3 separate regions of the Homo sapiens genome follow, and regions 2 and 3 are each reported to be linked to region 1. The links are microRNA targets in miRTarBase. Many come from high-throughput screens and were not tested one by one. Region 1 holds a microRNA gene; each other region holds the end of a gene's coding sequence.

Region 1 (3,151 bases):
CACATACTTTTAATAAATATTGTCTGGAACTAGTCTTCCACAGAAATCTTGATTTTTTTTTTTTTCTCTGATAATTGCACCTGATTGATCTTGGTATATTTTTTCACTGTGTTCATGTAATAGCTAGGGAGAATCCCATTTGATTGTTAGAAAACCTTCAGTTACATTCAAACAGGATGCATGCTCCTAAAATACAATGTCTGTAGAACTTTTGCTAAGTTCTCTCCCCTTTTCCTACTAGCAAGGCCTGGGTAAGATCTTCACCAATACCTTGTTTCCGCGATTGGCTGTCAAGTGGGATTAAAAAAAATGCTCTTAACACCTGTATAGTGTCCTCAGGTATCCACACAGGGGCCATCTATAAAGATTCCAGATTTGGGAGTATATTATCCAGTGTAACAGCAATTGGGGTGAAGCTGTTTCGAAGGAAGTACCAGCTATAGCTTCCCTCCTAAGTCCTATATGACCATTGACTATCATCTTTGCTGAATAAATGAAATGATGAAAATTCTAGCAATAGATAATCTTTTGTTTATCTAGGTGATATCTTTCTGACTCAGAAAAGCTTTTGCAAATGCTCTACCAAAAAGGAAGGCTAATCTTTTATCTTCCCAGTGGGGTAAAGCTATTTATTGTAGCAGCCATATCAAAGGCTGGTAGGAATTCTCCAGTCAGTGTGGCTTAAGCCAAGCTTTGCAGAAAAATATCTACCTTGTTCATAAAGAACTTCAAGAAAGATGATGCTTCCATTTTCCTCAAGTAATCTTCATTGTTACTGACTCTTATTCTTAGAAAAATGTTTCTATTTTCACATCACAGCTTTTGAATTTTCTCTTGTTCTGCTTTCTTACAGCAGACCATCCTCTAAATGTCTGTCACCTTTTTTCATACCAAATATGCCACCTTTTTTGTTTTAAACTTAATTCCTAGCTGTTGTGTTTGCCAGTCAGTGGTAAGTAAAGCTGTTAGTCACACCTAGGTTCAGCTGATTGAAAGCACATACTCTGTTACACCATGATGCCTTCTTTCAAGAGGAGCTGGTTAGGGAAGATCATGACTTATATTTGTGGACATAAGAGGGTGGCATTTAGAAATTCAGGTCTTTGGCTCAGGAGAGAATTTGAGATTACAAAGAGTGCTGTCATCTACAGCGATATGAGGAAATCAGTCTTTTACAAATTAGATTCGACTTCCCTTCTTGGGAGTGCATACACTAATTATGTATTATAACAGTAGCTTATGTCTTGGTTCCATAGTATACTGGCATTTAAAAACCATTTGTTTTATTATCACCTTATTTTAAATACAGAAAAAATTTTAACAACCTTTGGTACCAGAACTATAATCTAATGGTTCTCAGAATTGATAGATTTTTATGAGTCTGATAAATATGGTACAGACTAAAGAATGGGTTATGGCCTGAGACATTTTTCTAACCAAAGCTATATCAAGTTATGTAATTTTAAGGCTATAATTCAAGGTGTTTTTTTTGCAGTTTAAGTTCCTAGGGCTGTTTCTTTACTGGCTCAAATTCAAGACTTAAAATGTACAGATTTTACAGAGATTCCTCTGAAGAGCTTTCTCCTGTGGAGAAGATGGTAGTGAGTTCTCTTTCTAAGAGCTCCTGTTGGATTTTTCATCCTGAAGGTTTGTGTTGAAGAGGCAATATGTTTCTTCATGGAAAAAGATTTTGAGGGAAAAATAAGTGGTTATTTATAATTTATGAATGACTATGAAAATATTGTAATGTCCTCAAAGTGCAGTTTAGCCTACAAATATCAGTGATACCAACTTTTATAAGCATCAGTCATTAATCATCATCTATGTTGCAGCTAAGTGGAAATCATTACATTCATTTATATGATCTGTGAATAAGTCAAAAATGGAATTGAAATTGGGGGTTAATTGCATGACCAGACAGTGATAGTGTCTGTTCGTGAAGCTTTGCCTTCTGAAGTATGTGGTTTCTTTATGATCACTATCTCATTGAAGTTTTGAACCTTACTCATTATTTTGATTCTGAATAAGTATTCTTCTCAGTTGAATACATTTGCAATTGGGTTTTCATTTCATGAAGTTTTGAGTCAGTGGCATGCATCCTTTATCCCCAGACCATTTTCCTCTCTTCAGCAGCATGTTGTCTCCTGAATGTATACATCACACCCTTCTTCCCTGATGCTCCCATTCTGCTTGCTCTGGTGGAGATATTGCACATTACTAAGTTGCATGTTGTCACGGCCTCAATGCAATTTAGTGTGTGTGATATTTTCACATGAGTGCATGCACACGGGTATGGCTCTTGCTTGCTGGGATTACAGCTTTTCAGTGCCAGTGGGTGGGTGTCCTGATGAATTAGATAAGACAGTGTGTATGCCATGCGATTCTCATTTGGAAAGTGAACATGCTTCCCATCGGTACCTTCCAATTTTGGAGAATTAAAAGTATTTGGATTAAAAAAAGTCAGCAATGATCATTTAGTAAATCAGTGTTTCCATTTTTTACTTTGAGCAAATGAAATATTTATTACAAATTCTCATTGATTTAAGAGTATAAACAATATTTAAATGTATAAGGAAGAATGTAAAGCTGTAAGAAAATGTATTTTCATTTATTTGAAGAAATCTCTCCCAACACTGGAATAGAGAAGCAGAAATCTCTTATGCATATTTGGGGAAATTAAATTAACTGGAGTTCTTAAATAATAATCAAGACAGTAAAGGTATGCTTAACCTACCTGATGAAAGATTCATCTCATAAACTTAAGTTTCCAAGGTAAATTACCTTAAAAATGTGTCTTTTACTTTCTCATTGTGATGCTTCGAAAACTGCTAAATTCATTTTAGTGGGCTAATAATGGAACTAGTTTTGAAATACACGTTTACTATTTGCCTATGTAATTGAAACAACCCCTTGTTATTTTTTTAGTTAGCATTAGAGTAAGCATCCACAATCACTAGGCATTGTCAAGGACACAAAACCATGTATTACTGTATGAAAATATTGAATTAATATTTACTACTACCATAGCCTCCAGATGATCTATTGTGATGCTGTCATTGTATGTTTCTGTGTTTCACCACTGTTTTGGAGGGTGAGAATGGAAGAATTCCACGTAAGCAGCTCATCCCCTGTGCCCTTCAGCAGCTCGGCC
Region 2 (3,000 bases), not on the chromosome of region 1:
GCAGTAAATATTCGTAAGTTTGAATGTGGCAATGGTTTCTTAGATATGACACAAAAAACACAAAAGAAAAAAGATAAATTGGACTTCACAAATTAAAAGCTTTTGTGATTCAATGGACACCATCAAGAAAGTGAAAAGAATGGAATACCGATACATTTTACACATCAATGTACCTTGAAAACATTATGCTAAGTGAAAGAATCCAGACACACAAGGACACATATTGAATGAATCAATTTATATGAAATGGCCGTATAGGCAAATCCGTAGAGATAGGAAATAAAATTAGTGTTTGCCAGGGGCTGTGAGTAGAGAGGAAATGGGGAGTGTTGCTAATGGACATGGGATTTCTTTTTGGAGTAATGAAAATGTTTTGCAACTACATAGTCATTATGGTTGCACATCCTTGTGAATGTACTAAAAAGTACTGAACTGGATACCTTAAAAGGCTGAATTTTTTTCATTTCTTCTAAAAAAAACCAGGATAGATGTGCAGAACGTGCAGGTTTGTTACGTAGGTACATGTGTGCTATGGTGGTTTGCTGCATCTATTGACCCATCCTTTAAGTTTCCTCCCCTCACCCCTCACCCCCCAGCAGGCTCCGGTGTGTGATGTTCCCCTCCCTGTGTCCATGTGTTCTCATTGTTCAACTCCCATTTATGAACAAGAACATGCAGCATTTGGTTCTCTGTTCCTGTGTTAGTCTGCTGAGGATGATGGTTTCCAGCTTCATTCATATCCCTGCAAAGGACATGATCTCATTCCTTTGTATGGCTGCATAGTATTCCATGGTGTATATGTACCACATTTTCTTTCTCCAGTCTATCATTGATGGGCATTTGGGTTGGTTCCAAGTCTTTGCTATTGTAAATAGTGCTGCAGTAAACATACGTGTGCATGTGTCTTTATAGTAGAATGATTTATATTCCTCTGGGTATGTACCCAGTAATGGGGTTGCTGGGTCAAATGGTATTTCTGGTTCTAGATCCTCGAGGAATCGCCATACTGTCTTCCACAATAGTTGAACTAATTCACATTCCCACCAACAGTGTAAAAGCGTTCCTATTTCCCCACAGCCTCACCAGCATCTATTGTTTCCTGAGTTTTTAATAATTGCTATTCTGACTGGTGTGAGATGGTATCTCATTGTGGTTTTGATTTGCATTTCTCTGATGATCTGTGATGTTGAGCTTTTTTTCATATGTTTGTTGGCCGCATAAATGTCTTCTTTTGAGAAATGTCTATTCATATCCTTTGCCCACTTTTTGATGGGGTTGTTTTTTTCTTGTAAATTGTTTAAGTTCCTTGTAGATTCTGGATATTAGACCTTTGTCAGATGGGTAGATTGCAAAATGTTTTCTCCCATTCTGTAGGTTAAAAGGCTGAATTTTATAGCATGTGAATTATATCCCAATTTAAAAAAGAATGCATATGTCTTAGTTCAGGCTTCCATAACATAATACCATAGACTGGGTGGTCTAATTGTTCAAAGCTCCACAGAAATTAGTTGGAGAAGTTACAAGAGTCCATTAATCATCTTGCTTTGTTAGTAGCAGCGGGCATGGTTCAGCATTTTCTGCTTAAGTTTCTCTGAGCTCACCAAAACTAAAATGATGTTGTAATACTTTTTTTTTTTAATTGCACATCACTCCTTTATTATACTGATCTGGTAAAAGGATTTAGTACAGTTATGCTCAGATGAACACTGGGCCCATGTGGCAGGGTCAAGCAACTAGAACATGATTCAGAAATCAGTGAAAGACACACTTGGACAGGACCAAGAGGCATTTCACTGCCATGAAACAAGGCAGGAAGGGATTCTAATACACACACCAGGAAGCACTCCTGCCCCTCAGAGGTCAAGGAGCTGATCCTATATTGGTATGAGGAATGGCTTATTTTCTGATGACCACATGTGGGACTATTTCAACCGCCACAAGAAACCCCAGAAGGGTTATTGTTTTGTATTATTAATATATACTATACTTTTTTAATAAAAGTAAATATAACACATAACGAAATTCAGGATTGATCCCAACCTAGAGCCAGATCCTCTGGGGTCAAGGAGGAAACAGTTGTCACATCACCATGCAGATTACATTCATCTTCCACTGGAATGACTAGAGCCCCCAGGCAGTGGCCTGACTGCAGAAGAGCAGAGGACAGACTCTGCTCATGGGGACAGACAGGCTCTGTTGCTTCTCCTCATTGGTCGTGGCTTAGCATGTTCCTCCCCAAAGTCCTTAGTAAACAAAGCACTCACAAAAACCCAAGTCACTACTTTTAAACTCTGTTGGATAAGGGGAGCTTTTCCACAGCTTAGACTGAGAACCTGTGCTCTAGAACTGCTATTCTGACTAGATTGTATGAAGGGAGTGGGTGCAGGCGACAAAATGGCTAAAATGAAAATGGGAGCCACTGGTCCCCATCTGCAGCTACAACTCAAGATGTCTACAGATGTGGTCAGTGTGACATGTGCAGGTGGGAGGGGCAGAGGGACAAGACCAGCAGGGAGGGTGCTCCTGGGGACAGTATCCTCCCCGCTGGCCTTCACTTCTTGGCCTTGCCCTGGGCAGCCACAGCTTCTATGGCTTTGCACACCGTCTCTTCATCCCCCAGAAACTGCATGGGCTTGATAGGCTTCAAGTTCTTGTCCAATTCATAGACGATGGGAATACCAGTCGGCAGGTTCAGCTCCATGATAGCCTCTTCAGAGAGACCCTCCACATGCTTGGCAATGCCCTGGAGGCTGTTGCCATGGGCTGCAATCAGTACACGTTTCCCCTCCTTGATCTGGGGAACTATTTCTTCATTCCAGAAGGGCAGAGCTCTGGCAATAGTATCCTTCGGACTCTCATAGGAGGGTAGCTGATCTTCTGTGAGGTCTGCATACCTGCGATCCTTACTGATGTTGCTGTAGAAAGGATGGTCGGGCTCCATCGGAGGTGGTGGGACATCATAGGAGCGCCTCCAGATCTTCACCTGGGCCTCACCATGCT
Region 3 (3,000 bases), not on the chromosome of region 1:
ATGTCCAAACTACAGAAACATCCCTCAACTTGGAATCTACCAGTTCCTGATTTTAAAGATGGCAAAAGAACGGAAACTATAACCCTGCATGCTGTGTGGTTTGCATTGTTAACCCAAGTTTGCTTGTCTGTTTCCTAATTCACACAGAGCGTCAGAAGCCATGATGCATGTAGTGTGTGTGTACTGCAGCTGGAGTGGGCCCCAGACCAGGTATTTATAGACACCATGTTAAGCCTTCCATCCAGTTGTCATCTGTGATCTGACAGTCTGTATCCGCAGCAGTTTGGGAAGTTAGCATTTGTCATTCACCATTTCACCTTGTTCAATCTGGTTACAACTAGCCTATATGCATTTGTATTTTGGCATGCATACATGGATATGTAACATAAACTCCTGTTTAAAAATGGATTCGTTATTAGAACCATCCAACAGGGAGAAAATCCCAGTTAAAACAGTGTCTATTATATCTACCCCATCTTGGCTACTATAAATATCACATCAAGAATATTGGCCTCACAACACTTTGTTGTTGGAGATAACTATGCTTTCATGGGTTTCATAAGTGCCTTTCCTCTGAAAAACTGAAAGCTGTTCTTTTACATTACTGCATACAACTACCTGGAGTTATAGAGGGTTAGAAATTTTAATTTTGTTGAAGAAGAAATGGAAACTTAGGCCAGAGGACTTGTCAGGGGTGACTCTGAACAACAGGAACTAAGACTTTGCTTTTCCTTCTGTCTCTGGCCTGACAGATTTTCAGGAAGCACTCTGCTTCCATTTCCTCTGATGTAAATAATGGTAAACATCAGCTCGAATACATTGGCTGACTTACTAAGAGGAGGAAAGATGGTCTTTTAAACCAGCATCATAAGACTTTGTAGGAGTTTGCAAGCTGGTTGGAATTAGATACATAGCATTTAGTTTCTCTTCTTTCTTTCCTTTTTCTTTTCCTTGTAAGGATAGGTTAAAAGCAGGCATAGTTGAATTATTCTTAATATCCACTGTCCTCATCCTCTTCTCCTGTCATTCTGTAAACTGACCTAGTCCTCCCCTACGTTTAGGACTTAGGCTAGTGAAACTGACCTTCTCAGCTACAAGAGGACTATATGCTACTTTTTTAGTACAAAATTCATTGAGGGTGTGTTCACCTTGACCTCACTTGTTTATAACTAACACACAAATACCAGAAGGCCCTTACCATACCTCTTTATGTTGCTTACATGGATATTTCACTACAGTGCATTGTTTCTGTTAACATTAGTTCAAAATTCAACCTCTTCCAGAGTCAGCCTTAGTTTTAAATAAAACTAATAACTGTTAGACATCTGGTGGTATGAAAATAAAAAAACTAATAACTGTGTTTCTAGACTCTAATGGGTATAGCCTAAACTGAGATAAGTGCAGTTTTCCTTTTTACTCCTAAAGTGTAAGTAAGGTAAGATTGTTTCATGGGAAGTCAATAGCTTCCTGAAACAATGCTTTGTCTTCTCATGCTGTTAACCAGTAGTTTATTAGAATGATTTAAAGCCTTTTGAATATAACTGCTTTGCTGCTTTTTAAGATCAAGCCCTCTTGTTGGATGTTAACATTTAGTACTGAGCATTTGAGTTGCATCTGTCCTAATAATAGATTGTATTTTGAAGTCATTTTTGTTACTGACCTTTTGATTTTTATTTTTTATTATTATTATTTTTTATTTTGACTGAGTTTCACTCTGTCACCCAGGCTGGAGTGCAGTGGTGCAGTCTTGGCTCACTGCAACCTCTCCCTCCTGGGTTCAAGCAATTCTCCCACCTCAGCCTACCTAGTAGCTGGGATTACAGGCACCCACCACCACGCCTGGCTAATTTTTGTATTTTTAGTAGAGATGAGGTTTCACCACGTTGGCCAGGCTGGTCTCGAACTCCTGACCTCAGGTGATCCACCTGCCTCGGCCTCCCAAAGTGCTGGGATTACAGGCATGAGCCACTGTGCCCAGCCCTTTTTGATTTTTAATTAAAGATCTTACAATGGTCGGGTGCGGTGGCTCTTGCCTGTAATCCAAGCACTTTGGGAGGCTGAGGCGGGCGGATCACCTGAGGTCAAGAGTTTGAGACCACCCTGACCAACGTGGAGAAACCTCATCTCTACTAAAAATGCAAAATTAGTCGGGTGTGTGGCGCATGCATGTAATCCCAGCTACTCTGAGGCAGGAGAATCGCTTGGACCCGGGAGGCGGAGGTTGCGGTGAGCTCAGATGGCGCCATTGTACTCCTGTCTGGGCAACAAGAGCAAAACACAGTCTTAAAAAAAAAAAAAAATTCTTACACTTACATGCGTAGAGGTCAATTTTTAACTGGATTGGTGGCAAAAGAAGAGCTGGAAATGATGTTTAATGATACTATGATGCTTACACTGAGCCGTCTTGTTTGGGTGGTCTAAGGTAGCAGTGAATCTAAATAGTCATTGCCAGTTGAAAAACTATTAATGAACCATCTCCCTCCACATTCCCCTTTCTTTAAAACATTTAAATATTCTTAACTTAGTTGCACACTATTGATGTGATAAAAACTTATAAGCCTTTTAAGTTTAGAGTTGTATTATTTGGTAGGATGATGATTGTGATTTAATCTGCTGATCATTAGTTTACTTTTGTTTTCTGAGTCAGATGCTCACCCAGTTTTACCATGATTTTTGGAAAGCTTGGCTAGAAATAAAATAGAACATTTGCTTCTCTGTCCCCAAGCATTATGTTATTTCTTATTTCTCTTTATAATTCCCTCTCTGTCCAGGTATACCTGGTTTAAGACTTCTCATTTGTAACCTCAGTGTTCACATTTGAAACAAGAAAAGTGCATTAACATGAGAATCATTCTGGTGCAAAGATTCTCAGGATTTGTAATATCCTTAAGAATCACCCAAGGAGCTTATTGAAAATGCACATTCCTGGATTTACTCTCAAGTATGGTACCCCAGGGTCTGCATACTTCACAAGCGTCCCTGGTGGTTTTAGGGCAAGTG

What was found. Region 1 holds the annotated microRNA hsa-miR-32-5p (UAUUGCACAUUACUAAGUUGCA, at 2,206-2,227, shown strand). A microRNA usually pairs through its seed, bases 2 to 8, with sites in the 3' UTR of a target mRNA and lowers its output. Matches are read on the target gene's strand: a 7mer-m8 pairs with bases 2 to 8, a 7mer-A1 pairs with bases 2 to 7 and ends in A, and an 8mer does both.
Region 2: the mRNA of PGAM4 is a reported target of hsa-miR-32-5p. Seed matches in the 3' UTR shown: 7mer-m8 at 1,639-1,645.
Region 3: miRTarBase lists DDI2 as a target of hsa-miR-32-5p. The part of its 3' UTR that is shown has no 7-base or 8-base seed match.

What each region holds. Positions count from the first base shown.
Region 1 is chr9:109,045,348-109,048,498 of GRCh38, reverse strand. MIR32 (microRNA 32) reads left to right here and starts at 2,201; the gene lies at 2,201-2,270. All of the region lies in intron 14 of TMEM245 (transmembrane protein 245), which reads left to right.
Region 2 is chrX:77,966,323-77,969,322 of GRCh38, forward strand. PGAM4 (phosphoglycerate mutase family member 4) reads right to left here. Exons shown (of 1, transcript NM_001029891.3): 1 at 1,627-3,000. The coding sequence ends at 2,552. The region is part of intron 1 of ATP7A (ATPase copper transporting alpha); the gene reads left to right. Among named protein-coding and RNA genes, the nearest start is that of PGAM4, 1.8 kb to the right of the region's middle.
Region 3 is chr1:15,656,470-15,659,469 of GRCh38, forward strand. DDI2 (DDI proteasomal shuttling factor 2) reads left to right here. Exons shown (of 10, transcript NM_032341.5): 9 at 148-210. The coding sequence ends at 164. Among named protein-coding and RNA genes, the nearest start is that of RSC1A1, 1.7 kb to the right of the region's middle.